Linked DNA regions of Homo sapiens: region 2 is linked to region 1. Evidence: fine-mapped expression QTL. A gene starts in region 1. The other region holds a variant in brackets. All regions are shown on one strand. Distances are from middle to middle.

Region 1 (4,391 bases):
CCAGCAGATACTCATCTCTAAAACAAATCATTTAAACACAACCAGGAGATAAGCCAAATATAGTTATTTCTTCATCAAATAAGCAAACTCCAGTTATTTCCCTGTAGATAAGCTAAATAGTTATTTTAGCACCAGAAACATGGGTCTACTTAAGTGAAATTTCTGTTTTATTTATGATTTGGGGAAGGAAATTCGAGAAATTACAATTTGATATTCCCAAATTTCAATGTGGCTATACAAACCAAAAGTTCCAGAAGCAATCACAACAAAACCTGAGGCATATGTTGTTGATAGCAAAACTACTTAAGTCCTAACCCCATGCACTCCTTTACTCCCCAGCTAAAATTTGCACCAAGAATTTTGTAAGGACTTGCCCCAAAACCAAACTAGGCCCTCACTGACTGCTTTACTTACTTCTTTACGTTTTGTTTCCGGACATTCCGACTGCAGAGTGAGGGTTGCACCTTCAATATTTCTTGGCATGGGTGTGGAACCAGGGTTTATTGTCAAATGAATCTGATCTGGTGAGATAATGTGCTGCACATAACCCTGGGACATTGCTTCATGATCTATCAGGTGAAAGCCCTCTTCACCCCCTACTAGAAAAGGCAAGTGTTCTCCGCACTGTCCGTCGTCATCTTCATCCTCCAAAGTGCCAGGGTCCTGCTCAATAAGAACAGTGGTCCTATCATAAACAGTTCCAGATGAGGAAGGCACCAGTCCGTTTTTATCCACAAACCTGAGCATTTTATCATCGGGGGTCAGCTCATCTTCCTCTGCCTCAAAGTAGATGATGTTGTTGTCTGGACTGTGTTCCCCCATGGTTCAGTTGTGCTCAGCCCAGTTGTGAGAAATGAAAACGTAATGACTTGTCTGCAACAGAACAAAGCCAGAGTTAGAGTCATACCACAAGACCGACGGACCTCCTCAGCAACCACAAGGCTCATTTTCCCTCTCACTTAAAGAGCAAGCCAAAGCAAATGAAAAACCATCCTTGGGAATAATTTTTTTATTTTAACTTTAAAACCATCAAGTCATTTTTAAAGAAAAGCAATGCCGACTGGGCGTGGTGGCTCACACCTGTAATCCCAACACTTTGGGAGGCTAAGATGGGAGGATCGCTTGAGGCCAGGAGTTTGAGATCAGCCTGGTCAACATAGTGAGACCCCCATCTCTAATAAAAAAAAAAAAAAAAGAAAAAGAAAGAAAAGCAATGCTTTTCAAAAACTGAATAAGTTCATAAGACCTTCTGAATACGCCTGTCAAACAATTTGAAACTTGGTCAAAATATTTAAAGGGGACAAAAGAGCAAACAGAACAGCAGCTGCTGAAAGGCTGAGTTGCTACAAATCTTAAGGGAAACTCCATCCATTCAAATATCCTCCAAATCAGACCACGAGGCAGTAAATGGTTTCATGCAGTTTATGGTAGAAGGAGCAAGGCTTTGGAGGCAGAGTCATCTACCTACAAATCCTGTCTTTGCCTTTTACTACATGGGTAACTTTTCTGTGCCTCATTTTTCTTACGTGCAAGGTGGGACCAGTAATTCCTGTTCTCTCAAAGTTTTTATAAGAAATAAAAGAGGCAACATATGTAAAGCACAATGTTTGGTAAATAGTAGAGGAACAAGTATGAATTCCTTCCCCCCTACCTAGAACAGATGTTTCAACCTTCTGGGTGGAAGGGCTATTCCTCAATCAGGCACAAACAACGAAGATCACTGTATCTATTTATGTCCTAAAACAATATGGTGTCAACAAGAAGTTATGGTTCTGTGGTGGGCTCTCGTCCCTGAATCAATTGAGTCTTATTATTTTTGTTTCTACAGCTCCTAGCATAGTACACTGATACTATGATAAGAGTTCAGGAAATGTCAGCTAAATGACTGAAAGACATGGCTACCTACTCTCTCGTGAAGATATACTATCTTGGGAAGATACATTCTCTTGAGAAAAATACCACATTTGAAGCTTTCATGTTCTGGAATAGTGATTCTTCCTTCATCTGCAAACACAGGCTCTACAAATGTGGGTTTGGCAGGCAGAATAGAGAATTTTAAAATAATCAGCACATCCCTTTTAGTTTTCAGTCTGGCTTTGCGCTTTATCTTTCTCTTCTGCTCTGGGTTAGAAAGTGAGCCTTTACTTAGTGGGATGGCTAGACAGTTACCAGAGACAGGCCAAAGGATTGGATCCGGGAGGTACCGGCCCGACCCCTAGCTCTGGCTTACGCAACCCCACAGATGTACATTTCGCTGCATCTGAGCAGAGAGAGAAGAGCACCGAGGGCCCCAGTGGGCTGCCCCGGCACCCTCGGCGGCAACGCGGAGACCAACTGTCCGAAACAAACAAGACCAGGAGGTTTGAGGGTAGCCAACGAGGAGTGCGAACAGAGCCCCCTTGAGAGGAGGCTGGGAAAAGGAACCTGTCTGGGATAGCCCCCAGCACAGGGCTACACAGAAAAATCCGAAGACAAGCTGGGGGTCTCCAAGCAAGGAGGAGAGGGGCAGGGTCCGGGTCTCCATGGAAACAGGGAAGGGGGGCTGGATACCCATCCCCATGGAAACGGAGAAGGGGTGGGGTCCCTATGGTGACCAAACTGAGGTCTCTATTGGGAAATGCTTCAGGAGGGAGCCTAAGTCCCGCGCCTCCCGGTAAGTCCCAAGCCCAGGCCGAGTCTAGTTTCGCCTTTTACCTCCGCGGCTCCCGGCAACGGCGGCAGCAGCAGCTTCTCCCCTCCCCAGCGGCACCATGATTGCCCCCACCTTCCCCTAACGTCACTTCCGCTTCCTCTTTCCGGAGGAAGGTGGGGACAGAGGATCCGCCCCTCCCTGGCGCCTCTGGTTGGCTCAGGTTGTCAGGGGGCTGAGCTGCAGCCTCCAATTGGCGAGCGGGGCACCGAGGGGAAGGCGCCCAGGAGGTGGGTTCATCCGCGTGGGGAAGCGCCCGGGGTGGCCACGCGGGGCCCGGAGGGTGTCGCCCTCGCGGCACCGGAGTCAAGGAGAAGGGAACGAATCCCCAAGGAAGAATCCGAAATGTCCTCAGCCAGGTTTGCGCTGACCGCCCTCGCCCTGGCAGCCACAGCCGCAGCGGGAAGGACCACAGTTGGCAGTCAGAACCCTGGCTCCAACCCGCCAGGGGAGCCTGGACGGCCGCGACGTTCCCGGGTTTCTCCTGCCGGGACCCCGGCCTTCCCTTCAGCACCCATCAAAGTTAACACAGGCAGGAGGCCCAGAAAGGAAGACAAGACCCCAAAGGCAGAACTAAGAGTATTCTAAGCCCAGCTGGAGAGGACGCCGCCGCCTCTTCCCCTTCTCACGCGCTTGCCTAGGACCCCCAGCTCCCTTCTCACGCGCTTGCCCAGGCTGGCGGTCCCAACTTTCTTCCCCTGCAAGAGGACGCGGCTACGGCGGGACTCATGCCCGGGCCAGTTAGCGCCACCTACCGGCCACTCCCTTCCTTTCACCGTTCACATTGTCCTGCTGGCCCGCGTCTTAAACCCATTTCACAGTGCCCAGAAGTAGTGGGCATTCGTACCCAGGAAGCGATTCTGCCTTCGTTATGCCCCTGTCCTTTCCAAATGCCTGGAGGATCTAGCTGTTAGATCCTCCCAGCTGCCACTGCCTGTTTTAACCATAAGCTGCTTCTCTCGAATATTCAGAGTGGGACAACTCCAAAGACCAGACCAGGGGTCAAGGGGTTCAGGTCAGTGCCATAACCATTTCTTGCTGGAAGTATGTGAATAGTGACTGGTACCCACCAGACTGCCAGGAATATGTCTCTTTGGCCCCAAGGCTTGAGCCACAAAATCCAGCTGCAGCGAACTGCCATCTCTTAAGACATAAAAACATACACAACCGCCACTGTTAAAAATACATTTATCATTAAAATATATTACACATGGAGACAGGATGCATCATATACAGTTTGGAAGACTTGCTGGCCCAGAAAATCCCACTTGTTTCACCGAACACTCATTTTTTCAGTGATTTTACATTTTATTTTTAGAGACGGGGTCTCCCTCTCTCACCCGGGCTGGCGTACAGTGATGTGGTCATAGGTCACTGCAGCCTCAAACTCCTGTGCTCAAGTGAGCCACCCACGTCAGCCTCCCAAGTAACTGGGACCACAGGCATGCATCACCACACCCAGCTAATTTTTTAAAAATGTTTTTGTAGAGAGGGGGTCTCCCTGTGTTGCCCAGCCTGGTCCCAAACTCCTGGTCTCAAGTGATGCTCCCACCTCAGTCTCCCAAAGTGCCGAGATTACAGGCGTGAGCCACTGTGCCTGGTCATTTTAATTTTTTAAATGCCTGTATTGCCCTCAGAGGCTGAGCAACCAGCCTCAGAGTTATTGAGCCATTATCTGGGCAGGAACGGGGGTCGAGTTTGC
Region 2 (4,391 bases), 210 kb before region 1:
ACTTTTTATTTATTTATTATTATTGTTATTTTAGACAGAGTCTTGCTCTGTCACCCAGGCTGGAGTGCAGTGGCACGATGTCGCTCACTGCAACCTCCACCTCCCGGGTTCAAGCCATTCTCCTGCCTCAGCCTCCCAAATAGCTGGAATTTCAGGCACCCACCACCATACCTGGCTAATTTTTGTATTTTTAATAGAGACGGGGTTTTACCATGTTGGCCCAGCTGGTCTCAAACTCCTGACTTCAGGTGATCCACCCGCCTCAGCCTCCCAGAGTGCTGGCATTACAGGCATGAGTCACCACACCTGGCCAAGAATTCACTTTAGTCCTAGCCTTTTATACTTGTTGTTTTACTTTGTGCTCACGACAACGCTGTGAGCATTGGGGTACATTATTATCCCCATTGTACAGACAAGGAGATAGAGGGCTTGGCCAATTAAGCAGCTCCCCTAAGGTGGCCCAGACTCCAGTGGCAGCCTCTGGGTTTGGATCCACATCTGTGTGAACTGTTTTTTGTTTTTTGTTTTTTTTTGAAATAGAGTCTCGCTCCATCTCCCAGGCTGGAGTGCAGTGGCGCGATCTCGGCTCACTGCAAGCTCCGCCTCCCGAGTTCACGCCATTGTCCTGCCTCAGCCTCCCGAGTAGCTGGGATTACAGGCACCTGCCACCACGCCCGGCTAATTTTTTGTATTTTTAGTAGAGACAGCGTTTCACCGTGTTAGCCAGGATGGTCTCGATCTCCTGTCATCGTGATCTGCCCACCTCGGCCTCCCAAAGTGCTGGCATTACAGGCGTGAGCCACTGCACCCGGCCTGTGTGAACTGTTAATACCACCCGGCTCAGCCTTGTCCATGGTTAGTGCCGTAAACTCGACTTCTTTTTGCAGTGCTGCTCTGAGTACTTTTCAAGGCTTTTTGTCCACACTGCAAACATGCTCTGCAGCCTCCGAAACAGTGTCCAGCCTGTAGTATGTGCCTGATAAATATCAAACTAATGACTGAAAACAGTGGCAGTATACGAGCTTGCCTTTTTCACTATGATAGTACCTACACTGGGGATTCTCGATAAAGAAAAAAGACAGAAATGTTATTGTTACTTTAATTTGCACTTCTGCCGGGTGTGGTGGCTCACGCCTGTAATCCCAGCACTTTGGGAGGCCAAGGTAGGGGGATCTCTTGAGGCTCGAAGTTCAAGACCACCCTGGCCAACATGGCAAAACTCTGTCTCTACTAAAAATACAAAAGTTAGCCGGGCATGGTGGTGGGTGCCTGAAATCCCAGCTACTCAGGAGGCTGAGGCAGGAGAATCACTTGAACCTGAGAGGCGGAGGTTGCAGTGAGCCGAGATTGTGCCACTGCACTCCAGCCTGGGCAACAGAGTGAGACTCTGTCTCAATAATAATAATAATAATAATAATAATAATAATAATAATAATAAAATAATAATTTGCACTTCTTTGATTATCGATGAGATGAAATATGTTTTACAAATACCCACCACTACATATGTATAATTTCTGGCTTGTAGATTTTGCTATCCATATTATTTGCCCTCATTGTCTATATCACGAGACCCCATTAATGTACTGGGGTCTCTGTGGGGTTTTTACCCCTTAAGTTGTGTAAGATTGTTATATGGCAAGAATATTAACTATTTGCTTGTCGTGTTAATTGTAACTATTTCCTCCAACCTGTTGTTTGCTTTTTATCTGAGATTACATTATTCCATCCCACAGGATTCCTAAGTATGCATCCATTCTCCCGGGTAAACCACGAGTCTCAAAAAGTAGGCAGCAGGCTGGACCCGGTGGCACAC[G/A]CATGGAATCCCAGCGCTTTGGGAGGCCAAGGCAGGAAGTTGCTTGAGGCCAGGAGTGCAAAACCAACATGGCGAGACTCTGTCTGTATAAGAAATAAAATAAATTATCCAGGTGTGGTGGTGTGTACCTGTTGTTCCAGTTACTTGGGAGGCTGAGGTGGAAGGATCACTTGAACCTAGGAGGTGGAAGATCCATAGCCTGGGTGACAAAGCAAGACCCTGTCTCAAGAAAGAAAAAAAAAGTAGGTAGCAACTGTATCTTGGGCTTCTTCTCTTTCAGATCTTTGTCAGAGGTCTGACCACAAAGTCATGTCTTTTATTTTTTTGAGATGGAGTTTTGCTCTTGTTGCCCAGGCTGGAGTGCAATGGCACAATCTTGGCTCATTGCAACCTCTGCCTCACGGGTTCAAGCAATTCTCCTGCCTCAGCCTCCCGAGTAGCTGGGATTACAGGCATGTGCCACCATGCCCAGCTAATTTTGTATTTTTAGTAGAGACGGGGTTTCACCATGTTGGTTAGGCTGATCTCGAACTCCCGACCTCAGGTGATCCACCCGCCTTGGCCTCCCAAAGTGCTGGGATTACAGGTGTGAGCCACCATGCCCAGCTGTTTTGTTTTGATTTTTGAGACAGGGTCTCGCTCTGTCGCCAGGCTGGAATGCAGTGGTGTGATCACAGCTCACTGCAGCCTCAACCTTCCAGGCTCAAGCCATCCTCCCACCTCAGCCTCTCAAGTAGCTGGGACTACAGGCTCATAGTCCACCATATCCGGCTAATTTTATATTTTTTGTAGAGACAGGGTTTTGCCATGTTGCCCAGGCTGGTCTCGAACTCCTGGACTCAAGCAATCCTCCTGCCTCGGCCTCTCAAAGTTCTGGGACTATGGACATGAGCCACCTCACCCAGCCACAAAGTAGATTTCTAATAAAGTTTTCTCCAGGCTCACATAACAAAAGTGCACTTGATGGACACTGTCACTTCTTTTGAGCAAAGTCTCACCAAGATAGAAAGTATCACCATTTCCATTTTGCTGATGAGAAAACAGAGGCACATAGAGGCTAAGCGACTTGCCCGTGAGCACACTGATTGTAGTGGTCAAGCCTGGATTTATATCCTGTGCTTCCTCCATCATGTGGAGTTGCTGGGGGTAAAGCCCAGGTCAGTGACAGGCAGCTGGTACAAGTCTCAAGCCCCTTTTCCTTGCTAAGCTGTTGTTCTGCCCAGTGTCTAAGAGAGAGAGAGAGAGAGAATAAGTGTGTCTATGTGTTGCATAGGATGAGGGGAAGCAGTTGGACTGAGACTGCATTGTGGAAGGCCTTGGATGCTGAGCCAGAGTCAGACTTCATTCTATAGAATATGTAGAATAAGCATACTCAGATTCCCCACCACATCCCCTCCCCTTCCCAGAAAACAAGAACCAACTTCACCCTGACTGTGGAGCCCATAACTGGGAAGCCTCACACCCTGAGCACTTGAGGTGGCCGAGCTGGAAGGGCCTTGAGAAACACCTGACCATCAGCTCTCATCTACCTCAATGAGGAGGGACCCAGGCCCAGTGAGGGGTGGTGACTCAGCCAAAGTCACACTACAACTTAGGGATTAGAACCCAGGTGTCCAATGCCCAGCTGAAGACCCTATCTTCTAATCACCCAGCCCCTCTAAACACAACCAGGGTATCTGTGAGCTAGCATGGAAGCACTTATTCGCTCATCCGCTTATTTCATTTATTCAATTAATATTTCTTCCTTTTTTATCATCTCTGAGAAGCTGTGGCTATTCAGTTAATATTTATTGAGCACACTGAGGCACAAGAACACATGACAGTTTCTACTTGTAACCATGGGACTTGTGTAGTCACTGAGCCTCTAAGATGTGATACTCCCATGCCAGGACAGCTGCACACACACACACACACACACACACACACACACACACACGGAGTAGCTGTGGTCATCTGGGCCTGCTCAAGAGTGCAGTGGTCAGAGCAAGGGCTTTACAGCCAGACAGGCCCAGCTCTGCCACTTACCTGGCTGTGTGACATTGAGCAAGTCACTTAACCTCTCTGAGTCTCAGCTGAAAATCATGTAACATGGTGATAATAATTATACCTGCCTCATAGAGTTATGATGAGAATAACAGGTAGAAATTCATTTATTCCGCATATATTTATTGAGCTCTTACCATGTGCTAGGCACTAAGGTTACAGCAGTGAACAAAACAGAATAATCTCCGCCCTCATGGAGTTTACCTTCTGGTACATGCATGCTAACTTGTGGCCCTGATGCAGTGTCTGGCACACAGTAGATGCTCAATAAATGGTTATTTCTCACCTTCTCCTCCCACCCAGCAGTAGGTCGTGGGTGAGAAGCCAGGTGGGAGCCTCTTTCTTCTCTCCCGCTTCCATCTGCAGTTCTCGACTCCAGCCCCAGTACCTCACAGAAGCCTCTGGCTCCTCCTTCAAGAGTAGGAAGAGGGTGGGCAAAAAGCTGCAAACACTGTAGATGAGCAACAGGTAAAACGCAGTAGTAGCAGTGCTGCCCTTGGCCTTGGGGATTTGATAGGAAAACTGAAGGAGG

Which allele goes with the higher level. Alleles are on the strand shown, and positions count from the first base shown. SD is a standard deviation of normalised expression in the study named.
With allele A in place of G in region 2, the expression in prefrontal cortex of the gene that starts at base 2,756 in region 1 is lower (moderate effect, 0.69 SD a copy in ROSMAP).

What was found. PIP is the estimated chance that this variant, and not a neighbour inherited with it, causes the effect.
Region 2: its variant is the best candidate, but not a certain one, in a credible set for the expression of MTF1 in prefrontal cortex (ROSMAP, PIP 0.51).

Annotation. Positions count from the first base shown.
Region 1 is chr1:37,856,837-37,861,227 of GRCh38, forward strand. MTF1 (metal regulatory transcription factor 1) reads right to left here and starts at 2,756. Exons shown (of 11, transcript NM_005955.3): 1 at 2,695-2,756; 2 at 415-873. The coding sequence starts at 822. INPP5B (inositol polyphosphate-5-phosphatase B) reads right to left here. Exons shown (of 24, transcript NM_005540.3): 24 at 3,861-4,391. RefSeq lists a silencer at 2,693-3,022.
Region 2 is chr1:37,645,691-37,650,081 of GRCh38, forward strand. No RefSeq gene overlaps it. Among named protein-coding and RNA genes, the nearest start is that of RSPO1, 13 kb to the left of the region's middle. The variant G/A (reference allele first, on the strand shown) is at 1,817.